Regions from separate parts of the Homo sapiens genome. Here regions 1 and 3 are each reported to be linked to region 2. Evidence: microRNA targets listed by miRTarBase, many of them from high-throughput screens and not tested one by one. Region 2 holds a microRNA gene; each other region holds the end of a gene's coding sequence.
What was found. Region 2 holds the annotated microRNA hsa-miR-936 (ACAGUAGAGGGAGGAAUCGCAG, at 1,065-1,086, shown strand). A microRNA usually pairs through its seed, bases 2 to 8, with sites in the 3' UTR of a target mRNA and lowers its output. Matches are read on the target gene's strand: a 7mer-m8 pairs with bases 2 to 8, a 7mer-A1 pairs with bases 2 to 7 and ends in A, and an 8mer does both.

Region 1: miRTarBase lists RGS17 as a target of hsa-miR-936. The part of its 3' UTR that is shown has no 7-base or 8-base seed match.
Region 3: miRTarBase lists FXN as a target of hsa-miR-936. Seed matches in the 3' UTR shown: 8mer at 2,657-2,664.

The regions. Positions count from the first base shown.
Region 1 is chr6:153,009,056-153,012,125 of GRCh38, reverse strand. It overlaps RGS17 (regulator of G protein signaling 17), which reads left to right. Exons shown (of 5, transcript NM_012419.5): 5 at 364-3,070. The coding sequence ends at 552. Among named protein-coding and RNA genes, the nearest start is that of MTRF1L, 7.9 kb to the right of the region's middle.
Region 2 is chr10:104,046,097-104,049,236 of GRCh38, reverse strand. MIR936 (microRNA 936) reads left to right here and starts at 1,051; the gene lies at 1,051-1,148. It overlaps COL17A1 (collagen type XVII alpha 1 chain), which reads left to right. Exons shown (of 56, transcript NM_000494.4): 30 at 1,133-1,168; 31 at 1,427-1,498; 32 at 2,464-2,490.
Region 3 is chr9:69,072,260-69,075,329 of GRCh38, forward strand. FXN (frataxin) reads left to right here. Exons shown (of 5, transcript NM_000144.5): 5 at 353-3,070. The coding sequence ends at 503. Among named protein-coding and RNA genes, the nearest start is that of FXN, 38 kb to the left of the region's middle.

The DNA.
Region 1 (3,070 bases), not on the chromosome of region 2:
CCCAGTCACAGAATAGCAGGAGGTGAATTCACATTCTGGCTAGGAAATTTCTGGTATCTCAACCATGATTAGAAATTGTCAAAAACTCCTGAATGAATGCATAGAAACCATAAAACCAAGTAAGCAAAGACATCTGTAAACTAAATTTCTGGTTTAAAAGACTTAATTGGATTTTTTTATTTAGTGCAAATTTTGAAGGAGAAAAGTACATAAGGTTGTGTAGTCTCAAAAGATGAACCCAAGACTTTTGGTAGTTGGATTTGCTCTTTAAAGTTTCTCTAAAATGTCACAAACCTACAGTTACTTAATTGAGGTCTTTTGAAAAAAATATTATTTAATGTATTTGCTCTTGTTTCTTTTTAGGTCAGTCTTGATTCTCGAGTTAGAGAGGTGATCAATAGAAATCTGTTGGATCCCAATCCTCACATGTATGAAGATGCCCAACTTCAGATATATACTTTAATGCACAGAGATTCTTTTCCAAGGTTTTTGAACTCTCAAATTTATAAGTCATTTGTTGAAAGTACTGCTGGCTCTTCTTCTGAATCTTAATGTTCATTTAAAAACAATCATTTTGGAGGGCTGAGATGGGAAATAAAAGTAGTTAAATAACATCAGAAACTGAGTTCCTGGAGAACTACAGTTTAGCATTCCTCAGGCTACTGTGAAAACACAACCGTTATGGTCTTTGTCTCCATTTTTATCAAGGTTTTCCATGGTTAAGTTTGGAGAAAATACCACACAAAACAATGAATTGCCAAATTGTTTGTTTTATTCAAGACTCATTCTACTTGCAAGCAAAGTGTATTTGTAGTCCTATGAACAGTCTCCTCGTGTATCTCCAGAGACTGCATGTGCAAAGTAAAATGCTTCATTTGCCACATAGTTGTTGTAATATTTAATCCAGTAGCATAACTTATATCTGTATTTAAGGACTTTTGTGCAATATGGTCTTAAGAAATAATTGCCAAAAAAATCGGCCATGGTTTGCATTTTTTAACATAATCTAAGACAGAAAAAAAGCAATTTTTACTATGTAACAATGGTATTCAACATTCTATATACTGTGTTTAGTACACTAATTTTGAAGCCAATATTTCTGTACATGAAAAAGAGCTATTTATCTCTGTTTGTTGGAAAATCCTAATGGGGATTCCTCTGGTTGTTCACTGCCAAAACTGTGGCATTTTCATTACAGGAGAGTTTACTATGCTAAAAGCAAAAAACAAAAAAAAAAAAAAAGGGAAGAAGGAAAAAAGCACAAAACAATTTGAAGATATCCTATCTCAATGACAAATCAAAAGAGTGATATTGCTTTTAACTGTAATAGAAGAAAATGAATTTATGTATATATCAGATGTCCAATACTGTAATTAATTTATTAAAGACTGGCTCTCCAGTTTTAAAATGGTTGTGTAAAGTTATGTACTTCAGCAAGAAAAAAATAATAATAAGCTTGATAACTTAGTTTTGGAATATAAAGAAAAGGACTTAATAAAGGAATGCCTACATGTAGCACTGTAAAACATTTTGATGAATAGCATCTGTCCTGTGGCATATTTTCCTTGAAAGTGAAATCCAATGAAAAGCTAAGTTTTTACCAGGAAAAGTTTTATAAGGGTTATGAAGAAAATAATCCTCTACTTCAGACCTTAACTGTTTTCACATAATATCTTAAGGATGACATTTTAAAGATGTTTAAACCAAACTATTAGTTTTCATCCATCATTAAAAGGCAGTACAGTGCTCAAATCTTCCAGCTGCCATATTATTTTTTATAAGTACACTAAATCTTTACGACAAAACACTTGCCTGACATTGTCATGTACTTCTGACCTTCAAGGAAACAATATTCTGTCATGCATAAAAGTGATAATTAAAATAATCAGTGTCATATTTATATCAAAGTGTTACATTTGAATATTAATATCCCCTGAAGACTATTTTTTTAATATTAAACTGAATGAATATAATACTGAGTAACCTAAAATGAAAGTTTTAAAAAGATTTATATCCACTGAGAACACTGGCCTTATATTAAGGATGATATTACAGTTACAGGTTTTCTTTGTCATTTTTTTAACTACCTCTCATTTTTTAATTTATTAAACATATTTTTTAAAAAAACAAGTTTGGGGGTTTCTTTTTAAATTTATTTTACTTGAAAGGTTGGCATCACAAGTTTCTTTTTCCATAAACTTAAAACATTTCAAAAATGGTTTTTTTAAGCAAGTATGATTTTCTAATTTATATAGAATTCAGGAGACATGAATAAAAGGGCTATTATCTATTCCCTATGCAAATATTTTAACTGTTGCAGTGTTTGACAAAATGGGATTTTTTAAAAATTGCAGAGTAGAAAACAAAATATTCTGTTTACACTGGCGTTGCTGACTATCCTACCATATTCAGCACTTTTAAATACGTTATTTATGAAAATGCAGTTAAAATGCAAGATAGAAAATATTTATAATAATCATTTCTTTTAACAAATGCCTGTGTTTTCTGAAAGTGTTAGTGTGTTAAGACATATTTTATTCATGTCATTTAAATACTATTTGAATAAGTTTTCAGTAATATGTTGAAAAAAAGATAGCTATGAAGATGTTTACAAAAAGTCATATTTTTTCCTAAAGAGTAAAGAAAAACCTAAAAGAATCATCACTTCTATTGTGAAGTTCTATTGTTCCTAAATTATTTAATTTTTTTCTTGCTTAGAATTGAGTTTATTATGCTACTATGATATATACACATGTATGGTGTAGTATCATATTTGTTTCTGTGTGTGAGGCTCAACAAATTGGTGCACATGACTAGAAAATATGTAATATACTGTGATACACTGCATGCATCCATCTTTTTAAATGTAGACTTTATATTCTCGTTGTTACTATATATGATGGTGACCTGCTAGTCATAAGTTATCTTTATAAGATACTTTGGACTATTAGATGAATTGTCTGTTTGACAATATCTTTAATATTTTACCAAATGTAAAAGATAAGGGCCGTTATAAAGAGTCCTAATCTCTAACCTGGGCATTTGTAGAACACAGATTTTAAAGTTGGTA
Region 2 (3,140 bases):
GAGCTGCAGGTACCTCTGTGGGTTTCTTTCCACTTTGGGAGAGGCCTTGCAGGGCATGGTCCATTCACCTAAGAGCTGCCTGTGAGCTCCCCACTCCCCTGGGGAAGACAGTGTTGAAGTCCTTAGGAGCCTCAAGTGTTCCAGGAATCCCAGGGCTAGTCTCATGGCCAAATCCAGGTTTTTACCCTTTTGTTCACCTGAGGTGCCTGTCAGCCTGGCTGCAGAAACTGACCAAGAATCTCAGAGGTAGCCAGGTGCAGTGATTCACGCCTGTAATCCCTGGGACTCAGGATGATCGCTTGAACTCAGGAGTTGGAGGCTGCAGTGAGCCATGATTACACCACTGCGCTACAGTCTGGGTGACAGAGCAAGAATTCATCTCTCAAAAAAAAACCAAAAAAAAAAAAGACCATGTTGAGGATCAAACCCAAGAAGGGTTTAAGCCTTACCTGTGGAGATGCAGCATGTGTACTCTCGTTCACTTCCCCAGCTGTGAGTGCTGACACTGTGCTAGGCAAATGAGATGCTTTACCTCCCTCAAGGGGAGATAAGACTTGCATGAGGTGACAAGTGTCACGCAAGGTACAGAGTGCTGTGAGGATACAGTCAAAGGAGAGATTTCTTCCAATAGGAAGGACGGAGGAGGGGGCATTTCAAGTGGTCCCAAAAAGTTGGAAAGATTTTAAGCATGACCAGTCTGGAAAATTCCATGCAGGGATGACAGCACGAGCAGGGAAAGACAAAGAAATGGGAAAGAGCAAGATATGGTCCCAGAAGGCCACCATTTTGGAGAGAGGTTACAATAATGCCTAGAGCAGAGGAGACAAGAACATGGAGGACCTTGACTTCTAGGCCCTCAAGTAAACGCGACAAGCATTGAGCATCGAGGCGCTTGAGATGCAATGGGAAGGCACTGAACAATTCTCAACAGGAAAAGAGACAATTGCTGGTTTAGGAGAAGGGGCAGTGGGAGTACCGTATCCAGAGAGTGTGACAGACAGGGCTGTCCCGTGGCTGATGGCTGCGTGGGCTCCTGGGACACAATGTGCTTCAAGGCCACTGGGACAGTAGAGGGAGGAATCGCAGAAATCACTCCAGGAGCAACTGAGAGACCTTGCTTCTACTTTACCAGGTCCTGCTGGCCCAGACGGACACCAAGGCCCAAGAGGTTGGTCACTCATCTGCTGCCCCCAGCCTCACTCCCGTCACAGCCCCTGTTCCAGCATGCAGCCCTCAGTCCCCTTAACCATAGTGCAGAGGAGCATATAGCATGTGGAAGTGTGCAGTGTCCAGTTCTGTTCCCCTTCTCCTTTCCACCTGCCAGCAAGTCAATTAGGAAAACCCTCAGAAACTATCAGTTCAGATGTGATAACCAGTTTAGCTTTCCTAAATGTAAACACTTCCACGTTGGCCATTCTCTCTCTAGGTGAACAAGGTCTTACTGGGATGCCTGGAATCCGTGGCCCACCAGGACCTTCTGGAGACCCAGGAAAGCCAGGTAACAGAGCAGGAAGAGGGAGCCATGGCCCTGCTTAGTGTGTGTGTGCTTTGTGTGTGTGGATGTAGGCATGTGTGTGCGTGTGCATGTGCAGGTGTGCAGGTTGTGGGGGAAGGGGTGTATATGTGCATGGTTGTGTGTGTGCATGCAGGTGTTTACAAATGCACCCATGTGTGCCTTATCCCGTTTTCCTCCAGCAGCTCAGCAGGGAACTGCCATAGTGTTAGGTTGTTTTGCGTGCAGTGGCTGTAGGCCCTGGCACCTCTGGGTAACTAAGTCTGGCAATTCAGAAGAGTGGGATTAACAGCTAAACATAAGGATTTCTAGAAAGGGGCAAGGACACTCTTAAAACTGCAGACTTGAAGGTCACCTCGCTATCTTGCTCCTCTGAGCCCTTCTCCTCTTGTCCTCCTCTCCTGTACTGGGCCCTCACCAACACCCACGAGGCCGAGGAGGAAGCCATTGTTAGAGTCTCCACCGAGAGCAAAGAGCAAACTTCTCAGGGTTGCAGGAAGAACAAATGAAAACCAGCCAAGAAAGCTGTGTGGTCAAGGCGGGTGGGCATTCATCGGGGGCCTCTGAGAGTAGGGGCCTCCTCAGCCTCCTTTGGCGGGTGCCCAGACAGGAGCCATAGAGGGGGAACCTGGGGCAGCATTGGGATCCGTGAGTGTTGAGCATTCCGGATTTGTGGCTCTCCTCAGATTCCAAAAGGGTCTGTGAACCCAGATAGGCTCAGCACCATTGCCTGAGAAAGTGGTGGGTCGCTTCACTGCAAAGCCCGAAGAACTGCTCTCCATCCAGAGCTGAGAGGTCCAAGGATGCTGGCTGCCCCGGCATGAGACGTGTCCTTCTGTACCCACTGACCCCTCCACTGCAGTGTCCACCGGTTTCTGCAGGTGTGGGTGTGGCTACCAGGGATGGCCTCCACCCTTCAACTCTTCCCTCTTGTGTCTGATTTTCTGCAGGTCTCACAGGACCCCAGGGACCTCAGGGTGAGTCGCTGGATCATTCCCACCTGCTGTCTCCCACCTTCTCCTGGGGTAACTGCTTGGGCCAGGGCTTTTCCTGCAGTCACCAGAGTTTCCTCTCCTCCACCAACTCCCTGGCACACACTCCCTTTCACTATGAGTCGTGAGAAGCACCTTAGGAAGGAAAAATAGGCACAGAACAATCTAGAACACCATTCGAGTAGAAATGAGATTAGATTGTGTGTCAATTCTGTCTGCCTGTGCCCTGTTCCCCTCGGGTGCAGGAATCTGAGAGGAACCCCAAGCTCATAGCTGAGCTCCCACTAGCCAGGAGAGCTGTTAGTCCAGAGGCCCAAGTTCCCCCACTGGCATGACAGGGCATGGGCGCTCATCCTTGTTCGGGAAAGCCCAGTTTCTCTGGGACAGCCTCAGTGTTAAAGCCTGTCCTGTAATTGGACCATTGTGCCCCCATATCACTACATTCATCCCCTAATTTCCTGAAAGAAATTAGGCAAAGATTGAAAATGAAATCAGGCAGCAGCCCCCCAGCAGTTGAATTCATAGGGACATGCTTCCAATGCTCTTACAGAGGAGTTCAGTAGTTAAAGGCAAGAGGGTGATGCTGCATTGGACTCAGGAAGCCGAGCCCCTCCCCTGCAGGGGAGAAGGGAGAC
Region 3 (3,070 bases), not on the chromosome of region 2:
GTTACATCTGTAGCACAAAAATGGCCCTAATTTTTAAAACACTGCTCCAGCATAGCAGGTATCACATGTGAGGTAGCAAAAGCTGGAGATCAAAGTGTGATACCTGGAGACTTATCAGTAAGGGTCAAATGTTTTTTCAGGTTTTGAGAATCATTCTTGGAATTGTTCCAGAAGATATATCGTATAACTCTTCTTAGATGCTAAGATAAGAAGGCAGATATACACTAGCTCATTTTGTGTTATTTTCTAGAGCTTTACTCCAGTCAATTTCTTGGGGGCAGCATTTGTGGAATCAGTGGTTCATCTGAAGGGCTGTGCTGTGGAATTACTATGCATTTGTTTTGTCTTCCAGTGGACCTAAGCGTTATGACTGGACTGGGAAAAACTGGGTGTACTCCCACGACGGCGTGTCCCTCCATGAGCTGCTGGCCGCAGAGCTCACTAAAGCCTTAAAAACCAAACTGGACTTGTCTTCCTTGGCCTATTCCGGAAAAGATGCTTGATGCCCAGCCCCGTTTTAAGGACATTAAAAGCTATCAGGCCAAGACCCCAGCTTCATTATGCAGCTGAGGTCTGTTTTTTGTTGTTGTTGTTGTTTATTTTTTTTATTCCTGCTTTTGAGGACAGTTGGGCTATGTGTCACAGCTCTGTAGAAAGAATGTGTTGCCTCCTACCTTGCCCCCAAGTTCTGATTTTTAATTTCTATGGAAGATTTTTTGGATTGTCGGATTTCCTCCCTCACATGATACCCCTTATCTTTTATAATGTCTTATGCCTATACCTGAATATAACAACCTTTAAAAAAGCAAAATAATAAGAAGGAAAAATTCCAGGAGGGAAAATGAATTGTCTTCACTCTTCATTCTTTGAAGGATTTACTGCAAGAAGTACATGAAGAGCAGCTGGTCAACCTGCTCACTGTTCTATCTCCAAATGAGACACATTAAAGGGTAGCCTACAAATGTTTTCAGGCTTCTTTCAAAGTGTAAGCACTTCTGAGCTCTTTAGCATTGAAGTGTCGAAAGCAACTCACACGGGAAGATCATTTCTTATTTGTGCTCTGTGACTGCCAAGGTGTGGCCTGCACTGGGTTGTCCAGGGAGACCTAGTGCTGTTTCTCCCACATATTCACATACGTGTCTGTGTGTATATATATTTTTTCAATTTAAAGGTTAGTATGGAATCAGCTGCTACAAGAATGCAAAAAATCTTCCAAAGACAAGAAAAGAGGAAAAAAAGCCGTTTTCATGAGCTGAGTGATGTAGCGTAACAAACAAAATCATGGAGCTGAGGAGGTGCCTTGTAAACATGAAGGGGCAGATAAAGGAAGGAGATACTCATGTTGATAAAGAGAGCCCTGGTCCTAGACATAGTTCAGCCACAAAGTAGTTGTCCCTTTGTGGACAAGTTTCCCAAATTCCCTGGACCTCTGCTTCCCCATCTGTTAAATGAGAGAATAGAGTATGGTTGATTCCCAGCATTCAGTGGTCCTGTCAAGCAACCTAACAGGCTAGTTCTAATTCCCTATTGGGTAGATGAGGGGATGACAAAGAACAGTTTTTAAGCTATATAGGAAACATTGTTATTGGTGTTGCCCTATCGTGATTTCAGTTGAATTCATGTGAAAATAATAGCCATCCTTGGCCTGGCGCGGTGGCTCACACCTGTAATCCCAGCACTTTTGGAGGCCAAGGTGGGTGGATCACCTGAGGTCAGGAGTTCAAGACCAGCCTGGCCAACATGATGAAACCCCGTCTCTACTAAAAATACAAAAAATTAGCCGGGCATGATGGCAGGTGCCTGTAATCCCAGCTACTTGGGAGGCTGAAGCGGAAGAATCGCTTGAACCCAGAGGTGGAGGTTGCAGTGAGCCGAGATCGTGCCATTGCACTGTAACCTGGGTGACTGAGCAAAACTCTGTCTCAAAATAATAATAACAATATAATAATAATAATAGCCATCCTTTATTGTACCCTTACTGGGTTAATCGTATTATACCACATTACCTCATTTTAATTTTTACTGACCTGCACTTTATACAAAGCAACAAGCCTCCAGGACATTAAAATTCATGCAAAGTTATGCTCATGTTATATTATTTTCTTACTTAAAGAAGGATTTATTAGTGGCTGGGCATGGTGGCGTGCACCTGTAATCCCAGGTACTCAGGAGGCTGAGACGGGAGAATTGCTTGACCCCAGGCGGAGGAGGTTACAGTGAGTCGAGATCGTACCTGAGCGACAGAGCGAGACTCCGTCTCAAAAAAAAAAAAAAGGAGGGTTTATTAATGAGAAGTTTGTATTAATATGTAGCAAAGGCTTTTCCAATGGGTGAATAAAAACACATTCCATTAAGTCAAGCTGGGAGCAGTGGCATATACCTATAGTCCCAGCTGCACAGGAGGCTGAGACAGGAGGATTGCTTGAAGCCAGGAATTGGAGATCAGCCTGGGCAACACAGCAAGATCCTATCTCTTAAAAAAAGAAAAAAAAACCTATTAATAATAAAACAGTATAAACAAAAGCTAAATAGGTAAAATATTTTTTCTGAAATAAAATTATTTTTTGAGTCTGATGGAAATGTTTAAGTGCAGTAGGCCAGTGCCAGTGAGAAAATAAATAACATCATACATGTTTGTATGTGTTTGCATCTTGCTTCTACTGAAAGTTTCAGTGCACCCCACTTACTTAGAACTCGGTGACATGATGTACTCCTTTATCTGGGACACAGCACAAAAGAGGTATGCAGTGGGGCTGCTCTGACATGAAAGTGGAAGTTAAGGAATCTGGGCTCTTATGGGGTCCTTGTGGGCCAGCCCTTCAGGCCTATTTTACTTTCATTTTACATATAGCTCTAATTGGTTTGATTATCTCGTTCCCAAGGCAGTGGGAGATCCCCATTTAAGGAAAGAAAAGGGGCCTGGCACAGTGGCTCATGCCTGTAATCCCAGCACTTTGGGAGGCTGAGGCAAGTGTATCACCTGAGGTCAGGAGTTCAAGACCAGCCTGGCCAACATGGCAAAATCCCGTCTCTACTAAAAATATTAAAAAATTGGCTGGGCGTGGTGGTT